Homo sapiens: one gene and its partners. The protein of the gene in region 1 purifies or fractionates together with the protein of each later gene. This does not show direct contact. Each region holds a gene or a part of one and is shown in the gene's direction. Other genes may lie near its edges. The genes, in order: HEATR1, TSPYL6 and ALDH3A2.

Evidence for each region.
Region 2: the proteins of HEATR1 (region 1) and TSPYL6 purify together in Homo sapiens (affinity purification with mass spectrometry; 2 studies listed by BioGRID and IntAct, with this or other methods). This does not show direct contact.
Region 3: the proteins of HEATR1 (region 1) and ALDH3A2 purify together in Homo sapiens (affinity purification with mass spectrometry; 2 studies listed by BioGRID and IntAct, with this or other methods). This does not show direct contact.

The regions. Positions count from the first base shown.
Region 1 is NC_000001.11:236,594,474-236,601,585, reverse strand, and holds part of HEATR1 (HEAT repeat-containing protein 1), read left to right. Parts: intron 1-1,961; coding exon 1,962-2,103; intron 2,104-3,606; coding exon 3,607-3,708; intron 3,709-4,609; coding exon 4,610-4,750; intron 4,751-5,541; coding exon 5,542-5,753; intron 5,754-5,912; coding exon 5,913-6,046; intron 6,047-7,112. UniProt on the Homo sapiens protein: Ribosome biogenesis factor; required for recruitment of Myc to nucleoli. Involved in nucleolar processing of pre-18S ribosomal RNA. Required for optimal pre-ribosomal RNA transcription by RNA polymerase I.
Region 2 is NC_000002.12:54,253,142-54,260,100, reverse strand, and holds TSPYL6 (testis-specific Y-encoded-like protein 6), read left to right. Parts: upstream 1-3,871; 5' UTR 3,872-3,949; coding exon 3,950-5,182; 3' UTR 5,183-6,923; downstream 6,924-6,959.
Region 3 is NC_000017.11:19,658,749-19,665,860, forward strand, and holds part of ALDH3A2 (aldehyde dehydrogenase family 3 member A2), read left to right. Parts: intron 1-2,378; coding exon 2,379-2,520; intron 2,521-3,251; exon of another isoform or gene 3,252-3,342; intron 3,343-4,584; coding exon 4,585-4,751; intron 4,752-6,199; coding exon 6,200-6,299; intron 6,300-7,112.

The DNA.
Region 1 (7,112 bases):
GATCCTCCTGCCGAGTCGGCCTCCCAAAGTGCTGGGGTTACAGGCATGAGCCACCACATCCAGTCCAACTTACATGTTTTAAAAGTAGATTTCTATTCCATTAATTGGAGACATGGCTTCAAGGCCAGCCTGGCCAGCATGGTAAAACCTGTCTGTGTGAAAAATACAAAAATTAGCTGGGCGCAGTGGCGAGCACTTGTAATTCTAGCTACTTGGGAGGCTGAGGCAGGAGAATTGCTTGAATCCAGGAGACAGATTTTGCAGTGAGCTGAGATCACGCCACTGCACTCCAGCCTGGGTAACAGGGAGACGCCGTATCAAAAAAAAAAAACAAAAAATGGAGACGTGGGGATAAACTAATTTTTTTTCAAGAAGCAAGTGAGTCATCAAGAAAACATGATTTTAACTTGGGTCTTCTGATTGTCAGAACATTAGGGCAATCAGACAAAGAATATTTAAAAGTCTGTAATATTTCCATCTGTTTTCTAGCACCTAACTTTACCCCCAAATAGATCATTAATGTAAGGAATACTTTTTGCATTTGATTTTTCATTTTATGTCTTCAGATAACTTATTTATTCAGCAAATACTAAGTTCAGTACATAGATAAGTAGGTTGCCGTTGATTACTGTTTTGAAATAAATGCCATAATAAAGGATTAAGCAGAGTTTTGTGGATATAGTTCTGCCTGGAATAGTTGAAGAAAGCTTCATGGAAAAAGTAACCGCTAAAACCGTATGTCAAACTAAGAGGCTGGGTTCAGTGGCTCACGCCTGTAATCCCAGCACTTTGAGAGGCTGAGGCAGGCCAGTCACTTGAGATCAGGAGTTTGAGACGAGCCTGACCAACATGGTGAATCCCTGTCTCTACTAGAAATACAAAAAAAAATTAGCTGGGTGTGGTGCTGTGCACCTGTAATTCCAGCTACTTGGGAGGCTAGGGCATGAGAATCGCTTGAACTTGGGAGGCGAAGGTTGCAGTGAGCTGAGATCACACCACTGCACTCCAGCCTGGGTGACCAAGTAGACTCTGGAAAAAAAAAAAAATCTAATAAAAGGCAATGTATGGTACTGTTTAAAAAAAGTACACGATGTAAAAGGATAGGAGAGTTTTCACAGAAGAGGGATCAGTTGGCAGAATTAGAAAAAACATCTTAGCCAGGCATGGTGGCTCACACCTGTAGTCCTAGCACTTTGGGAGGCTGAGGCAGGTAGATTGCCTGAGCTCAGGAGTTGGAGACCAGCCTGGGCAACATGGTGAAACCCCATCTCTACTAAAGTAAAAAAAAAAAATTAGCTGGGCATGGTGGTATGAGTTTGTAGTCCCAGCTACTTGGGAGGCGGAGGCAGGAGAATCTTTTAAACTTGGAGGTGGAGGTTGCAGTGAGCCGAGATTGTGCCACTGCACTCCAGCCTGGGCAACAGCAAGACTCCCTCTCAAAAAAAAAAAAAAAAAAAAAAAAAAAAATGTTGACAGACCAGCCTGGGCAACACAGGGAGACCTAGTCTCTACACAGAAATAAAAAATTAGCCAGCTGTGATGGTGCTCCCCTGTGGTCCCAGCTACTCAGGAGACCTAGGTGGGAGGATCATTTGAGCCTGGGAGGTTGAGGCTGCAGTGACCCGTGATCGTGCCACTGCACTCCAGCCTGAGTGGCAGAGCAAGACTCTATTCAAAAAATTAAATAAAAATTGTAAAGCTGAGAGAAAGTTAATGGGATGTATATTTTGATGTAGAATATTCAAAGATATTGCATAGGAATTGGCTGGACCATGTTGAGGGATATGTGAATGCAAAATTGGGGACTTTTTAAATGCTCTGTATCTTATAATTTTGTGATTTTTACTGCTACTCGTTCTAGGTTGTTTTAGCTTATTAATAATACAGTTTGGGCATGTGAGGAAATAGGTGCTTATTATTAAGTTTTGTGTTCAGTTGGACTGTTTGCTTTTTTTCCCCAGGTTCCATATACATCTCTATAATCAAGATAGCCTCATTGCTTGTGTTCTGCCATACCACGAGACAAGAATATTTGTGCGAGTCATACAGCTTCTAAAAATTAATAATTCAAAGCACAGATGGTTCTGGTTGTTGCCAGTTAAGGTATAATTGCTGAATGACATATGTCTGTAATCATTACAGATCTTGATTAAGGGATTTAATTAGGAAAAAATAAGTCATTGCTCCTGGGGATAGTCCAGATAACTACCTCCATCATTTTTATTTCCTGACTTCCAATTGAAACTATTATTAATGTTAATAATATTTAGCTTTTATTTAGTATCTGACATCAGGCTAGGCAATGTACATTATATTATCTTGGATTATCACAAAACTTCATTTTTACAGATGAGGACAGGCTACTTGCCAAAGTTCACATAACTATAAAGTGGCAGAGTTGAGATTTGAACCCAAATCTGATTCCAGAGTCTGTGCCTTTGTATCGTACCATGCCGTTTGGCATTTTAAATTTGGAACTGAGAACTTAAAAAAAAGTTGAAGGTGAAGAAAGGCAGAAAATACTTACAAAAATTAAAAGGATAAGGATAACTTCAGGGGTTTCAAGAATTTACTAAAGTTGTGAGGAAGATGCTAGGAGTTAATTTACAGACTAAGAAAAGGATGCTTGTATAACAGGAAGGGTCTGGGTAAGAAAAGACAGCATGCTATTGTAGGAAAACCAACTGACTAACCGTTAGCACTTTGTTTGCAACATATGGTGGAGGAAAGTAGATGTATGTTGTTAGCAGGAACTTGACTGCATGTTGGGCATGGTGATCCAGGGTAGGGGGGGAGGCAAATGGGGATGAAGGTAAGCTAACAGATCACGAGGCTGTGCACATTAGGCTGATGATGGTAGTGGGGTCAGTGTTCAGAATTAGTAAGATAGGAGTAATGAGGACTTTTTAATTAGAAGGAGAATTTAAGAATCTGAACGTAAAGCACTTGAACTAAAGAATGTTGGAGAAGGCCAGCCTTTGATAAAGCTCATTAACTGCTCTTCCCAACATTCACTCTGCCCATAGCATCAAAATTATTCTTCCTCTAATCTACCTTGGATCTTGCTGCTCCCTAGGCACTCTTATTGCAGGTAGCCAAACTCCACTCACCTACTAAAGTTCACTTAAAATTCTCCTTTCATTTATTTAATCAGTATTTATGGAGCATCTATTACATACCATGTACAACGCTAGATGGTGGGAATAGTGGTATAAGTTGTGCAGTTTCCTAGTCTATTTCTGTTCTTAGTGTTATTGTAAAGCAATGACAGAAGCGTATCATAGTGGCTCAGAAACCAAATCGAACCAGTAAAGTTACTAAGAATCTAGAGAATCCAGATTTTGATAAATACCTTTCAAAATGTGACATACGATAAGCAAACATCTTTCACTAAATACCTCTGCCCTCATTGCTGACCTTCTCTTTTGAATTTCTAAGTTTACATGATTTTATGTGTTAATTTCATCACCACCACCAGTTATAAGGAGAGATTATATTTTTTATTTATGAATTGTAGCAGTATGAAGACATTACTAGGGTAAATGCTTTAAAATAAGGATCAGTTGATGAATGTTGCTAGTAGTTTGTTCTTTCCATCAATAACAGCAATCTGGAGTGCCGTTAGCTAAAGGAACTTTGATTACCCACTGCTACAAAGATCTTGGATTCATGGATTTCATTTGCAGTTTGGTGACAAAATCTGTGAAGGTGAGCAGTCTGTTTCATGAGTATATAATTTTATGAAAAGATTGCTTGCTTTGAATGAAGAAAACATACTAAAACATTCCCTAATAACAATGATACTTTGGATAAATTTATTTTGTTAAATGGTCTGGTGTTTTGAAGCAGGAGCAGTTTGAGAGTCCGTATCTTTTTTTTTTTTTTTAAGAATCAGTCTTTTATCACCAAAGGTGTTTTTCTACAAAAATAAATGTCTATTCCTTGCCAGATTCTAGTTACAGTGACTATTCAAAGAGAGTGTCTAGAAATGTCGGGAATATTCAACCTGGGAAAGCTGTTTAAAAAATTTTAAGGCCAGGTGCGGTGGCTCACGCCTGTAATCCCAACACTTTGGGAGGCCAAGGCAGGCGGATCACTTGAAGTCAGGAGTTTGAGACCAGCCTGGCCAACATGGTGAAACACCGTCTCTACTAAAAATACGAAAATAAACTGGGCATGGTGGGGCATGCCTGTAATTCCAGCTGCTCGGGAGGCTGAGGCAGGAAAATCGCTTGAACCTGGGAGGCGGAGGTTGCAGTGACCCAAGATCATGCCACTGTACTGCAACCTGGGCGACAGAGACTCCATCTCAAAAAAAAAAAAAAAAAATTTTTTTTTAAATAAAAATGTTAGGAATATCATTAGGCAGTTAATTGTTGTCACATTGTGTATTCATTGTTGCATATGGTAATTCAGGAGAGCTGTAAATATTTATTTGGCCTTTCACTTTTTTTTTTTTTGGAGACATGGACTTGCTTTGTCGCCCAGGCTAGAGTACAGTGGTGCCATCATAGTTCATTGAAATCTCAGCCTTGAACTCCTGGCCTCAAGCAATCCTTCTACCTCCCTTTCACTGTTAAATGTGTTTTGTTTGTGTTCCTTGTTTCAGGTTTTTGCTGAGTACCCGGGCAGCTCAGCTCAGTTGAGGGTGCTCTTGGCTTTCTATGCTTCTACCATAGTGTCGGCGCTGGTAGCTGCAGAGGACGTATCAGACAATATCATCGCCAAACTATTTCCCTATATCCAAAAGGTTGGCACTGCTGATGTGTTAAGTAGATTATTTTGTACTTAAAGGAATTTTCTTGCTTTCGAAAGTTTTTTTAGATTTAAGTGTTTTTAAATTGACAGTTTATTTCAGATGATAGCTGAGATTTAGCCTTTAGGTTGAAAATATGACACTTTTTTATTAGAAACTCACTGGCCTGGGACCTTAATTAGGACTCTTAAGAATAAATATTGGCTGTCTGGTCCTGCGGCCATCTCCTAGATTGATTTCCATAGCAGTCTTTGTACCTCACTGGAAGGAGGACGGAGCAGACAGTCTCTTTGAGGCGTAAGCAACCTCTCAGTATTCTTTGTGCACTGGCTCCTGCCTCTCAGCGTTTCTCCTTCCCAAGTGCCTTCTTGCCTGCTGCCTTCCCAGGTGCCCTGTGGAGGTACTGCTTTCACTTCCCACCAGTGTCCCAACTTGTGACCTTTCATCAGACTTGTTTCTTCCATTAGTGATCTGATTGAGGTCTCCCTACTATAAGTAGGATTTTATGTATAAAAGAAGAGCTTACTGGCTCCTGTCAGGACATGTGGTAGATGTTTGAGTTGGGAAATTTTCTGAGATCCTTTGTCTCGTTCAACAGACTTGTCTCATCTCTGTATCCACTCTGAAAAAGGGGTCAGCTCCTTTATTGTTTATGTCTGAAGAGTGATTGACTATGCATTAGGTTGTATTAATCTCTATGACATTTCTAATTTGTCAGATTAACATTTAAAGTAGCAGAAAATAATATGGTTTATCATTTTTCCTTATATTTAAAAAATATTTAGGGATTGAAATCATCTTTACCAGATTACAGAGCTGCAACATACATGATAATATGTCAGATTTCTGTGAAAGTGACCATGGAAAATACCTTTGTGAATTCATTGGCATCACAGATCATCAAAACATTGACCAAGATTCCCTCTTTGATCAAGGATGGGTTAAGTTGCTTGATAGTGCTCCTGCAGAGACAGAAGCCAGAGAGCCTTGGGAAAAAGTATGTACAATTGAATTGAGAAATGGTGCTAGTCAGAGGTGAATAAAATTATTTTGAATAATTTTTTTTTGTAAGATAAGTGATTATATATTTTCTTATATTGTTACTCATTGTCTAACTTGTAAAGTCAACACGATATGTACTTTTGCTTCTTCAAAGGCCATTCCCTCACTTATGTAATGTTCCTGATCTTATTACAATACTTCATGGGATTTCTGAAACTTACGATGTCAGTCCTCTTCTGCATTACATGCTTCCCCATCTGGTCGTCTCCATCATTCATCATGTTACAGGTGTGTGGTTTTATATTTTTTGTCCAGAAATTTTCTAAGATTTGATCTTAAAATAGTAACCATATCCTGGTTAACAGCTTCAAAATATTTAAAATTTCTGTTTTCCAGTTGTTCTTGTGTAACTTGTCTATTTCTTAAGTGAGAAACATCTGGGGTGGGGAGCAGGTTGGTTGAAGAAAGATCATTGTTAATTGAGTAATTTCTTAGAATTTTACTTTTTTTAAGATCTGTGTTCTTAAATACTTAAATAGTCTCTACATGAAAAAGACTGGAATACTTTTAAAATTTATTACTGAGTAAACCTTTGCCTTCTCATTTAGGTATTTAATGAACTTTAGTGATTCATTTATAATGAATATCTCATCCAGTTGCCAAAAAAGTTTTTTCCCTAGAGTAATTAAAAATATAAGACCAAGAAAATTTTTATACATAAAAATCCAAATTATGAAACAAAGCAAAAAGCAAAAAGTAATAATTAGAGGGCCAGGTGGCTCAAACCTATAATTCTAGCACTTTGAGAAACTGAGATGGGCAGATCATGGCAAAACCCCGTCTCTACAAAAATATACAAAAATTAACCGGGCATGGTGACATGCAACTGTGGTCCCAGCTGCTCGGGAGACTGAGGTGGGAGGATCACCTGAGTCCAGGGAGTTCGAGGCTACAGGGAACTGTGTTTGTGCCACTGCAGTTCAGCCTGGGCGACAGAGTGAGACCCTATCTCAAAAATAATAATAATAATTAGAAAGTGATTATTTGCATTATGTCTTTTAATAAATACAGAAAGGCTAGGAAGAAACATTTGGTTCTGTTGCTACTTGGAGAATACTAAGAAAGACTTCTCTAAACTTATGTCAGTCTACTGAAAAATGAGGTTTTTGTAACCAAATCTTGGTTTGAACATGCATTTTAGAAAAGTGACTAGCAAAATGAAAATGTATTCTTCCTATTCTGAAGGTAATGAGTAATGTCCCAGTCTTTGAAAGCAAGGGCTAAGATCAGATTCATATGTTTATTATAAATCTGAAATAGATGACAGCTTTTGGTTCAGTAAGGGGGTGGGTAC
Region 2 (6,959 bases), on another chromosome or scaffold:
TCTCCACTTAGGTACTAGATTCCACCTCCTCTTGTCTATTCCAGGACATCCCTCCAATAATGCTTCCTTCTGTCTCTTACATCATTAGTTTTATGCTCCCTACTGGATCATTCACATCAACCTGCTTCTTTACACATGCTTCATCTCCCATTTTAAAAACACGTTCTTTGATCCATTTCCCCACCAGCTATCATCCCATTTCTTTGAAACAAAACTTCTCAAAACAGTTGTATATACTCGCTGTTTTCACTTTTTCGCTTCCTGTTTTCTCTTAAACTTATTCCAGCCAAGCTATTATCCCACCACTCCACTGAAAGTAGCTTGACTACTCTTGTCATGATCCCATTTCTTTGTTTCTTTTTGGAGAAAAATTCCTCAAAAGAATTGTCAATATTCAATCTCCATTTCTTTTCTCCCTTTCCCTTTCAAACATATTTCAACCCCCACCACTCCACTGAAAGTGCTCTTTTTGAGTCACCAGTGACTCTTTGTTGTAAAATCCGACGGTCAATTCTCAGACCTCATACTAACTGACATGTGAGCACCCTGTGACACAGCTGAACACCTTCCTTTACACATTTGGCTTCAAGCACATTGCACTCTCTTGGTTTCCTTCCTACCCTGCTGGTCTCTCTTCAGTCTTCCTTGCTGTTTTTCCTCTTTTTCTTGACCTTATACTTTTGGAGTCTTCAGGGCCCAGCTTATCAGGACTCACTATCTTAGTGTTCTCATCCAACCCTTTGACTTTAAATTCCATGCATGCTGATTATCCCAAAATGTGAATAACTATCTCAGACCTCTCCTGAGCTCTAAACTCATTATGCCCACTTGGCATCTCAACTCTGGTGTCCAATAATCATCTCAAACAATATGTTAAAAAAGAGAGACAACTCTGATTTTCCTGCAAAGATCTTCCTCATTATAACCTTCACCATCTCTGCTTCCAGTAACTCCATCCTACCAGTTGCTCATGTCAAAATCATTGGAGTCATCCTTGACTTCTCTCTTTCTCTTACACCCCATGCTGGGAGGTGGGGCCTTTAAGAGGTGATCAGGTTGTTAAGATGGATTTATGTTTTTCTTGCAAGGCTGGATAACTTCTCATGGGAATGGATTAGTTTTTGAGAGAGTGGGTTGCTATAATGCAAGTCAGCCTCTCTTGTCCATTCTTTCCCAGGTGCTTGCTTGCTCTTCTGCTTTTTTGTCATGCTACTTCATAGCACAGCATATTGGACTTCTCAGCATCCAGAATTGTGAGTTAAATAAGCTTTTCTTTATAAATTACCCAGTCTCAGGTATTCAGTTACAGCAACAGAAAATGAACTAAGAGATCCCATAGCCAATTTACCATTAAATCAGGCTGACTCTACCATCATACTATGTCCACCATCCACCTCCATTGCTGCCACCTGGTCTGAGAAACATCTTTCACCTGGGTTACTGCAGTAGCCTCCCAAAAGATCCCCCTAAATCTACCATTGCCACCATACAGATTATTTTTCACCCAGGAGCCAGAGTGATTCACGCAAAACTTAAGTCAGATTTTGTGTCCTCTGCTCAAAATCCTGTAGTAATTTCCCATTTCACTAAGAATAAAAGCCAAATTTCTTACACTATCATACAAGACCCTACTTGATCTAGCCTCCCTCATTCACTGTGCTCCAGTCACGCTGGCCTCCTTGTTATTTCTTGAACATTCCAGACATGCTCCTGTCTTAGTGCCTCTGCTTAGCACTTCTCGTGCTGAAATGCTCTCCTCCAGGATTTCTACTAGCTGACTCCCTCAACTTCTTTGACTCTTTGCCAAAATCTCATATTTTCAATGAGGCTTCCTCTGACCACCCTATTTCATACTACAATCTCCTCCCCACTCCCTACCCCCAGGACTTTCAATCTCCTTGCTCTATTGTTTTTTCCATAGCACTTATAACTTTCTAATGTGCAATATTGGTTTCTTGTTATTATCTTTCTCCCCTGCTAAAATGTAAACCCCAAGAGGGAAGAAATCTTTGGTCTGTTCACCGTTATATCCAGAGGGCCTATAAGAGTACCAGGCACACAGTAGGTACCCAATAAACATTTGTTGAATGTTTAATAAATATTTGTTGAATGTTTAATAAATATAAAAATGGATTATGTGTTCCTTGAAGGTTTGGTAGCAGTCGCCTCAAAATCATTTGAACCTCATGCTATTTTTGTGGAAACATTTTTTTAAGCTACTGATTCCATTTGTTTATTGTCTCTAGGTCTATTTAGATTTTCTATTGCATTTCAGTCCGTGTTGATAAGTTATACATTTCTATGAAGCCATATATTTCATCTAAGTTTGAAAATGTATTGGCATAAAGCTGTCTAACATCCTGTCTTATATTTATTTAAACCATCAATGTGACTATAATTTTCTCTCCAAATATTGCTTATTTTCTCTCTCCTTTTATTATTAATCTTTGGTTAATGCTCTGTATTGTCTTACATAAATTTCTCCTGTTTATTATTACCTTTTCTCTATGTCCTTTGGCCTAATTCTATTGGTCTTTTATATATTTCTCAAATTATTTTTCATGATGAGTGATACAGCACTTGCCAATATTTCCAGTTTCCTCCTTCCAGGCTCAAGAGAAGATTACACCTCCCTGTCCTATTAAAGTTAGACAAGGCCAACTGACTAGCTGTAGCCAATGATTTATGTCACTTCTGACAGAAACATTTAAAAACCTATGCATGGGGAAAGAATTGTCTTTTCAATAAACAGTGCTGGGTCAATTAGATATTCATATGGAAAAAAAGAAATTGTGACCCCACTCATAAAAATCAATTCCAGATGGATGGCATATATAAATTTGAACAATCTTGGTGAGATAAGATTCCTCTTTTTTTCTTCTTTTTAAAAATAGAGATGGGGTCTTGCTGTGTTGCCCAGGCTGGTCTCCAACTCCTAGGCTCAACTGATCCTCCCGTCTCCGCCTCTCAAAGTGCTAGGATTACAGGTGTGAGGCACTGTGCCCAGGTGAGAGGTAAGATTTCTTAAACAGAGCAGAAAAACACTAAGGTAAAGGGGAAAATGACAAATTGGCACATATTAAGATGAAAAACTTTTGTTCTTCAAAAGGTACCATTAAGATGGTGAAAAAGTAGGCCAGGTACGGTTGCTCATGCCTGTAATCCCAGCACTTTGGGAGGCCAAGATGGGCGGATCACCTGAGGCCAGGAGTTCAGACCAGCCTGGCCAACATGGCAAAACCATGTCTTGACTAAAAATACAAAACAAAACAAAACAAAACAAACAAACAAAAAAACCGGGCATGGTGGTGGGCGCCTGTAATCCCGGCTACTTGGGAGGCTGAAGCAGGAGAATCGCTTGAACTTGGGAGGCGGCAGCTTCAGTGAGCTGAGATCATGCCATTGTACTCCAGCCTCGGCGACAGCGAAACTACGAGTCCAAAAGAAAAGTAACCCCACAGAGTGGGAGGAAATATTTGTAATACCTATACTGGAAGAGAAATATTTGTAATACCTATACTGGAAGAATGACTGACTAGTATCTAGCATGTACAAAGGCTTCCTACAAATCCATATGAAAAATAACGTCAGCCCAGTAGAGAAATAGGGAGAAGCCTCGGATACTGCACAAGAGAGAATATCCTAGTGGCCAACAAACACATGAGAAGGTTCTCAGCTCATTAGACTTTGGCTAAATGCAAATTAAAACCACCATGTAATATCATTACTCATCCAGCACGATGGCTAAAATAACAAAGACGTAAAGACACCACCACAGACTCGCGAGACTGAGGAGTGAGTGTCGCGAGACTGAGGGGTGGGTGTCGCGAGACTGAAGAGTGGGCGGCGCAAATGGGCGAGGTGTTTACTCGCCATTTTGTGTGAGGAACGTTGACGCTACCTACCTCTGGCCTGGCCTCTACCCACTGCTGCCCTGGCCGCTACCAACATGAGCCTCCCGGAGAGTCCTCACAGCCCCGCTACTCTCGACTATGCTCTGGAAGACCCGCACCAGGGCCAGAGGTCCCGAGAAAAGAGCAAGGCGACAGAGGTAATGGCAGATATGTTTGATGGCCGCTTGGAGCCAATCGTGTTCCCACCGCCCCGGCTTCCAGAGGAGGGGGTCGCGCCCCAGGATCCCGCAGATGGTGGCCATACTTTCCACATCTTGGTCGATGCGGGTCGCAGTCATGGAGCCATCAAAGCGGGGCAGGAAGTGACTCCACCACCCGCGGAGGGCCTAGAAGCGGCCTCTGCCTCGCTGACAACTGACGGCAGCCTCAAAAATGGCTTTCCGGGTGAAGAGACGCACGGCCTAGGTGGGGAGAAGGCTCTAGAAACCTGTGGGGCAGGGAGGTCGGAGTCTGAAGTGATTGCAGAGGGGAAGGCCGAGGACGTGAAGCCTGAGGAGTGTGCCATGTTCTCAGCCCCAGTGGATGAGAAGCCAGGAGGCGAAGAAATGGACGTGGCGGAAGAAAACAGAGCAATAGATGAGGTAAACAGGGAGGCAGGGCCTGGGCCCGGGCCCGGGCCCCTGAACGTGGGTCTCCACCTGAACCCCCTGGAGTCCATCCAGCTGGAACTGGACTCCGTGAATGCAGAGGCTGACAGGGCGCTCCTGCAGGTGGAGCGCAGGTTTGGGCAGATTCATGAATACTACCTGGAGCAGAGGAATGACATCATTCGCAATATCCCGGGCTTCTGGGTCACTGCTTTCCGCCACCACCCACAGCTGTCTGCCATGATTAGAGGCCAAGATGCCGAGATGTTAAGCTACTTAACCAATTTGGAAGTGAAGGAGCTCAGACACCCTAGGACAGGCTGCAAGTTTAAGTTCTTCTTTCAAAGAAACCCTTACTTCAGAAACAAGCTGATTGTAAAGGTGTATGAGGTCAGATCCTTCGGCCAAGTGGTGTCTTTTTCCACTCTAATCATGTGGCGCCGGGGCCATGGACCCCAGTCCTTCATTCATAGGAACCGACATGTCATCTGCAGCTTCTTCACCTGGTTTTCAGACCACAGCCTTCCAGAGTCCGACAGGATTGCTCAGATTATTAAAGAGGACCTCTGGTCAAATCCACTGCAGTACTACCTGTTGGGTGAAGACGCCCATAGAGCTAGACGTCGCCTGGTAAGGGAGCCAGTGGAGATCCCCAGGCCCTTTGGGTTCCAGTGTGGTTAACCTTTGCCTTTGGAATTACTCCTGCAGAAGGTTGCCTGCCACCACCAGCTGGACCTGAGCTTGGGCAACAGCATTAGGTATGCCCTTTACTTTTTTTGTTCTGACTTTCCTGTACCCTCTGTTTAAACTTTCCGTTCTCTCAACCTGAAGATTGAGACCTTGGTGGCTGTGCTGCTCCCCTTTCACCTGGTCGTCTTGCTATTCTGCATTAACATCACATGCTCCCAGCCGATGGGTCACATCCTTCTAAGCGAAGCGAATGATGCTGTAGGTTACACTGTATTTACCTTTGTTTGGACTCGGTTTGTTCCCAGGACCTCTGGTCTGGCTCCTCCTACTTGGATTTCTAGCTGTGTCTAAGAACCTATTCAGCTCACCCTGCTCTGCATCTGACAGTACAGGTGCATGGCCTGTGGACAATTGCTGGGCATTAATGAAGTCAAGGGAGAACAGCAGGGGGCAAGTTGGTCTGTGTGAATTATGGGACCCCATTACTTTTCCTGAGACTGGTCACCTATTGCTGCCTGCTACTGGCTATTCCCAAGTACTGCTACTTGGGCAGCTCCCTGCTGAGTGAACATATCCCAGACCATTGCCAGCTCCACTCTCTGGTTTCTAATAAACAGGGATCTCCAGAACACTGGTGGTGGACACAGCTTTCCTGTCAGCACACAAAAGACCTGTTCCTCTTCCAAAAGACCTCTCTTTACCACCACCACCCTCATCACTCAGAAACCCTACTGTTTGTTAGACAGGTGGTTGAGGGGACATGTCAGACCCTATCCTCATGGCAAGGTTAATATGTTGGTGTTCTTGACAAGTACCAGGCTTTCTCAGCCACAACCAGTGGATTCATTCAAAATCTAGGTACCTTTATTTGCCTCCCTTCCTGAACCTAATGAAGTGCCAGAGTGAGTGTACACTTTCTTTTCTCTCATCTCTCATAAATCTCTTCTGTCTTCCTTTAAAAAAAACAAAAGTAGTAGTTCAGAAACATCCGCAGAAGCAGGCTTTTTAGTTTCTTGGCTCTCTTTGTCATGTCCAGAGGCAGGCTGTTCTGTAAAATAGACTGCCAGACCTCTTATTGCCCATTCTCCTTTCTTCTCAGCCCCTCACCCCTCTTTAGCAATTCCTAGAGGGTTTAAAGGACTACAGAGCTGTATGGAATGAAAGGTGATTTCTAGTTCAGAGTGGATAGAAGAACTAAAGAGATTGTGATGGGTGCTCTAGGCAGGGAAAACTGAACAAAAAGGCAGAAATGATTCAGGGGAAAATCGGGCCTAGAATTTACACTGGGTTGACTAGTTATGATGGGAAGAGAAGTACTTTTTTTTAGTATGCACGTAGAAGAATAGAAGATGGTTGGAGTGTTAAATATGTTCCCTAGAGAAGGGTTCTTTGAAGAAACACTGCAATTTTGGGTGTTCTCTTTCTTGTTTGCATATGGCCTTACTTATGTGGAAGATTAATACTGTGTTATAATATTTTCTCTTTCTGTTTACTGGGAAGATTCAGCTGTACAGATTTTCTTTTACTTTCAAATAGAAATATTTGGAATAATATCAGTCTTTCTTTTTTGTACATTATGTGGATATGGATATTCATGGCAGTTTTCAGCCTGTTCTTGTTTCTGTTAAAACCGTATCTTTAACATTTTAATTTGAATAACTTGGTCTTATCTGATGCGGAAGACTGGAAACTATTGTGTTCATGGGTAAATAAACTACAAAATATTTATGGCTTTCATTGTCCTTTTTGATAACTTGTCCTGGTAACA
Region 3 (7,112 bases), on another chromosome or scaffold:
AAAAAAAAAAAAAAAAAGAAGAATGGGATGACCAAATGACCAGTGTGACTGAGTTCAGCAGTGGGTGAGGATCATTAACCCCTCAGATGAAAGAAATTATTGGAGCAGTCACTGTTTACTCGACAGATGTTAATTGAGCACTAAAAGGAAGGATCAAAAACACCAAAGAGTAATGCATGTGATCTGAAAATGAAAATTGTTGGCCAGACATGGTGGCTCACGCCTGTAATCCCAGCACTTTGGGAGGCCAAGACAGGTTGATCACTTGAGGTGAGGAGTTAGAGACCAGTTTGGCCAACATGGCAAAACCCATCTCTACTAAAATTACAAAAATTAGCCGGGCATGGTGGCACGCACCTATAATTCTAGCTACTTGGGAGGCTGAGGCACAAGAATTGCTTGAACCCGGGAGGTGGAGCTTGCAGTGAGCCAAGATCATGCTACTGCACTCCAGCCTGGGTAACGGAATGAGATTTTATCTCAAAAGAAAAAAAGATATGAAAATTGTCGCCGTTGTGGTGGTTCACTCCTGTAATCCGAGCACTTTGGGAGGCTAAGGTGGGAAGATCGCTTGAGCCCAGGAGTTCAAAACCAGCCTGGTCAACATAATGAGACCCTGTGTCTACAAAAGAAAAAAAGGTTAGCTGGGTATGGTGGCACATGCCTGTAGTCCCAGCTACTCAGGAGGCTGAAGCCAGAAGGATCACTTGAGCCCAGGAGTTCAAGGCTGCAATGAGCCATTATTGCATCACTGTGCTCCAGCCTGAGTGACAGCATAAGACTCTGTCTCAAAAAAACAAAAAAAGAGAAAATTGGCTGGGCACAGTGGCTCACTCCTGTAATCCCAGCACTTTGGAAGGCCAAGGCAGACAGATCACTTGAGGCCAGGAATTCAAGACCAGCTGGGCAACGTAGCAAAATCTTGTCGCTACAAGAAATACAAAAATTCAGGTGTACCGGCGTGTACGTGTGGTCCCAGCTACTTGGCAGGCTGAGGTAGGAGGATCGCTTGATCCTCCTGGGAGGCGGAGGCTGCAGTGAGCCAAGAATGTGCCACTGGACTCCAGCCTGGGTGACAGAGTGAGACCCTGTCTCAAAAAAAAAAAAAAAAGAGAAAATTATGTACCAGGAAGTTCAGGACAATAGTTCACTATGTGTTCCAGGCAGAGTAACTTGGGGGATGAGGTGCTAGGGTCTTGACATGGAAATTGGACTATCATTTTTAGTCATAGGACTAAAAATGGATCCAGATGAGCACATGAAGGGAGAGTTGCCCAGATTCAGGGTATGTGGGAAGAGAGAGTGGTTAAAGATACTTGTGAGATTGAAAATATTTGGGAATTGGAGAATGCTTAGTTGAGTGTGGTGATGAATTCAATTTCAAAGGAATAAGGGCCTCTGCCTCCCTTTGAGGCATTTATACTCTTAACACAGTGGTTCTCAAGCTACATGTTACCCTAGTGAGCCATTTAAAAACAAGTTTGCAAGCCTTACCCTCCAAAGATTCAGCTCGTCTGAGGCCTCCAGGTGATTCTATGATGCATTCAGCATTGAAAACTACTGTTGGTGACTCTCGAGTCAGAGCCCAGGCACATGCATTTTAGCAAGCTGCACCAGTGATTCCGACCACCCAGACTTGAGAATTGCTCTTGGTAGAGGTTGGATGAACAATGTTCATTTTGATTTGGGATGAAATTGGGAACTCTCACAAGGCTTTGAAGTGATGCAGCAATTCAGTAATTTTGTTTGTTTTACTAAGTAAATATTGATTGTATGATTATTGACGTTCTTTTACCTTGGTAATTTACCAAAGCTGTATTTTGATCCTTCGGGTGGTTTCACCATCATGTGTAAGTGGTGGAAATACCAGTTCAAAGAAGACCAAAACAACAAAGTGGAGCAAAGATTGGCAAATGGTTTCTGTAAAGGGCTAGATGGTAAATATTTCAGGCTTTGCAGATGTTAGGGTCTCTGCTGTAACTACCGAACTTACTGTAGGGGGAAAGCAGGCACAGCCAATGTGCTAACAAATAGGCAACTCTGATGCAGAGCAAGACTTCTTTCCCCAGCCTGCTCCCACTGTCAGCCCCAGGAGGTGAAGGCCTGTGGGTGGACTCTAAGAGATCCATAAGAACCTTTGGAACTATGGACAATGACAGATCTCTGTGTGTGTGCATGCTTTATTTTCTGGTCCTCGACCTGCCAAAAAGCTGAAACTTGCTACTATCATACTACTGTTAAATTACTTGAGGGGTGGGGTGTTAGATTCTGTGAGGATATAAAACCAGATTGATTTTGGGGCATGGCTGGATTTTGTACTTACTGAAATTGAATTGTGGGTCTTTGTGACATTTATATACTCCTGTTGTTTTAAATAGGAATTTTATGGAGAAAATATAAAAGAGTCTCCTGATTATGAAAGGATCATCAATCTTCGTCATTTTAAGAGGATACTAAGTTTGCTTGAAGGACAAAAGATAGCTTTTGGTGGGGAGACTGATGAGGCCACACGCTACATAGGTAATGGAAATTCTCCTTTTCCTATGGGAAGATGGCAATTTGGCAGTTTTTGCTGACACTACTTATTAACACTAGATAAACTATTAAATATATAGCATTTAATTGTTAAAGTACTAAATCCTGCTTTCTGGTATACTGTACCTGTAGCTTTTGTTATAAACTATTTAAAATGTCTGTGTTTCTGTGTATTGAATGATGCCACCAGCGTTGCTCCAGTTGTTCATATTTACACATAACTCCTTTTTTCCTCCTAACAATCCTGAGAAGCAGAATAGAACTTGATGTAATTATCTGTAGTTTGTGGATGGGAAAACAGCACAAAGAAGGAAATAGCTTGGCCACTATTCCACAATTAACCAGTGACGGTACCATTCCAGAAATAATGTTTTGGTCCATCATGCTTGACCTTATTATTTGTGTACCTTCTTTGTGCTTTTTCTTCTTTGCCTTGAATATGTATTACTTTGAATGTTAAGCACATTTTTCTACAGTAACATATAAGGTGACAGAAAAATTAGACACATTTTGCTGGCAAAGAAGCTGCACCACCTAGCTTTACTTATCCCCTTTATCAGATAAGATGCTATAAGTCACCAAAAAAAAAAAAATCAACTTTAAAAAAAAAAACTTAAAAATGAAATAATAAGCAGAATTGATTCTCTTATAATTAGCAGTCCCGAGGTTCTCCTGAGCTAGATAATTCAGTGGCCCCGTGGTACCATCAAAAAACCCTGATTCTTTGTACTAGGATGCAAAAGAAAACAATCCTTGTGCCTTCTATCTCTCTTGGTGGCAGCCCAGATTGAATTGGGGAATACATCTGTAGAAAAAAGAGAAAACAGACTCTACTTGTTTCACCTCTCTGTTCTCCCATCCTCAGCATGTCCACATTGCCTATTTCTAGGCTAATGAATGGTAAGAGGAAGGGGCTATCCTGATTAGCTTATAGACTAATTAGGACTTTCCCCTGACTTCGAGCTGGGATCATCTTACCTGAGCATGGCTATGCAGAGGAAGTAGACACTCAGCCCAAATTGTTTCTCTGACCTGAGGAAGATGTGGGCAATGGATTTGGAGTGGCAGTTTATATACCCCCTGGAAGTGGTGCTGCAAGAAGCTGTCCCCAGCCACATTGCCAAGATAACCTATTAGAAACTGGGGGTAAAGGAAAAGTGCCAACTTGTTATTGTCAGATGACTTCTCTTTTGGTTGACGAGCCAGTTTCTTACTTACAGCATCTTTTGGAGTACTGCTAGTTGGTGACTTACATTGGCAGCAGATGCTGGGACACTTTGTCTAGCCTCCCCAGCATCTGTTTCACCCTCCTTTCTTGTGCCTCTTCCCCATGGTAGATGGAACAGTGGACTAAGGTTTAGGGAATTTTGACCATTTAAGTCTGTTTTCTTAATCTGTCTAACAGAGTTATAATAAAGGTTAATGAGATCATATATATGAAAGCACTCGAGTTAAGAAAAATAGTATTGATTTGATTCACAGAGGAGCTGTCTTTGCTCCTAGAAAGACCTGTCCATTCGAGACCAGCCTGACCCAACATGGAGAAACCTCATCTCTACTAAAAATACAAAACTAGCCGGGCGTGGTGGTGCATGCCTGTAATCCCAGCTACTCGGGAGGCTGAGACAGGAGAATCACTTGAACTCCAGAGGCGGAGGTTGCAGTGAGCCGAGATGGCACCATTGCACTCCAGCCTGGGCAACAAGGGCGAAACTCCATCTCAAAAAAAAAACCTGTCCACAGAAAAATGTTAAGTATAATCTACAGTTAAATACATGCATGGCTGTGAACAGGGTTCAATGTGAAAAAGATATATTTGAGTGTGTATCGTTCCCTTGGTTTGCACAAGTATCCGCAGGGTTGTGATTCACAGGCTTTGGAGACATTGAGTATGTGCACAGTTCATCCACGTGCTCAGGATTTTTCAATAGATATGACTTGGGTGGGAGAGGGAAAGGCATGGATAAGTGACCCAATGAAAGAGATGTAATATGAGAGTTGTGCATTTTTGTCTAATAAGCATTTTCATTTTGTTTATTTTCTTTTTAGCCCCAACAGTACTTACCGATGTTGATCCTAAAACCAAGGTGATGCAAGAAGAAATTTTTGGACCAATTCTTCCAATAGTGCCTGTGAAAAATGTAGATGAGGCCATAAATTTCATAAATGAACGTGAAAAGCCTCTGGCTCTTTATGTATTTTCGCATAACCATAAGGTAAGCTTTAGAGAGAACAGCTAGTTAGCATAAGCAACTGTCAAGAGTCATGTTCCTTCTTTGCTGTAAAACAATGCAAAAAACAATGTGAAACAATGATGGTTTCTTTTGTGTCATGTCAGAGTCCATCCACTAAGTGAGGTTGTGTTCCGAGGTTGCTGTCTTGGTTAATGAGACTCTGGGGTTATCACAGCATCCATTCCCCTCCTCCCTCGGGTTAGATCTGAGTCTGCAGGGTTGAGTGTCACAAGGTTTTTGATTCACAAACATCTCCTGTATAATTGGAAGACTTATATGTGCCAGCATTAAATGCTTTTCTGATGTTAATCCACAGGGCATTGCTGAATAACAGCCTGCACAAAATGGCATTCACACCCACTGTGTGGGACAAAGACCCCGACACTGTCACATAAATGGTTGTGATATGATGGATTTTAGTTTCTAACATGACGCTAGCTTCTTGTTAGAGTGGTGGAACTGCATCACCTGGTTGAGCAGTTCTGCCACTTTCTGCATGGCTCACTCATTCATGTCACTAGGTGACCAGCCGCTACTAAGAGACCATGGCCCAAATGTTTTCTGGAGAGCTTCTGATGGTAATGTATAGATAGTCATGTGACAGCTTTTGGAGCTTGTGAGACTATTGAGATACAGATAGCTACAGGTATTTGAAGTGAGACCAAATGTGTGGGGCTCAGTAAAGACTGGGTTATTAACAAAACAATGGTTTGACATTTAAAACCATGGATAATGTGGGCAGGAAGGAACCCTGAAGCCGAAAGTAGGCTGGCCAGGGTATAAGTCAGGTGTGGAGCACTTCCCAGCAGTGGGTCACCCGAGGTCACTATAGTCCAGACTTGACGTTTGCCATGAACAATTGTCAAGGGCTTGCTGGCACCCAAGGGTAAATGACGTTTACTAGTCAAGTGTTCTTGTGCTTTTCTGAGCCTTAGGCCAAACAACCATTTATTTCTTAAAAAATAGGATGCTAAATCTAAAGTCTTAAATATTTTTACATTTCATAAAGACTAAATAATACCTATTAATCATGTGTTATAATTTAAAGCAGAGATAAGAAAGAAATAATAACAGTTTTTAAAGCTGGAATATAGTCTAAGCTGTCCCCTTTTAAAGAGTCTTTTGCTGCTGTGTTGGGGAGTACAACTCCAGGTTGTGGCTGAGTAGGCCCAGAGGTTTGGAGCTGCCTCCTTTTGTGCACTAGATGTGTGTCTGAGAAGTTGGGTATCAGTCACTTTGCTAAATTAACCAGTTGAGATTGTTTGTCTATCTGGCATGGTGTCCCCAAACTCGAGAATTTTCACTGACACAAAGCCAGAATGTGCATGCTTTGAGCACATAACTGAGCACACAGCCCTCTGTGTGGTGGGGCCATGAGTGTTCCCTAAGGGGCAACTTCACTGACCTGGACACCTTTGGTCTGTCCTCAGCTCATCAAACGGATGATTGATGAGACATCCAGTGGAGGTGTCACAGGCAATGACGTCATTATGCACTTCACGCTCAACTCTTTCCCATTTGGAGGAGTGGGTGAGTCTTATTTTCTCCTGCTTGTAGTAGATATTTCAAAAGCACCACCATTTCATGAGTGGATTGTATGGGCTGCTGAAATAGCCAGCTGTTGCGTACCCTGATTGTCCTCTCCTGAGGGAGACCTTTTCCTGGTCACCCAGTTGACTGGTTTTCCTGCTTCCCCACCCACCCCTCCAGCATAGGGCAAATGTCTTGTCACTCTCTTTCTGTCAGCAGCACTGACTGACCACAGCTTTGTTCACTTCGTTGATTTTGTTATCCTGCCACATTTAGGAGATTTGGGAACCAAGAATCAGGTCTCAAATTAATTAAGAAGATCTCTCTTCGTGTGTGTGTGTGTGTGTGTGTGTGTGTGTGTGGTGTGTGTGTTTAATGAAGTAGCAAATGAAAGGTTCGGAATACCAGGGACAGAAGGTAGAGGGGTTTTCTAATGTGCCTTTGTTTTCTGCTCAGTTCTTACCTGCATTGTTCCCCAGCCCTTTGTTGGGAGGAGCAGCCTCTCCTTGAATTGTTTTGTGATTTGAGTAAAACGGGACTCCCCCTGTTCTAGAGAGGATGGGCAGAAAGAAATTCATTCCAAGTGAAGCTTTGTGGACATAGCCTGATCCTTGCTTTTCCCTTTAGAACATGACCTGCCTGCCTCTCCCACATGTGAGATGACTGACTCAGCTTTTTATTTCTCCTTTGGGACCTAGGCTAGGTGGGCTTTTCTACTCTCTACTAGAGCTATTACAAAATAGCCGATATGTAAACATTCTCATAACAAAAACCCAACCAGAAAAGCCACTGTCTTAAAGCCCTGTTCTATCC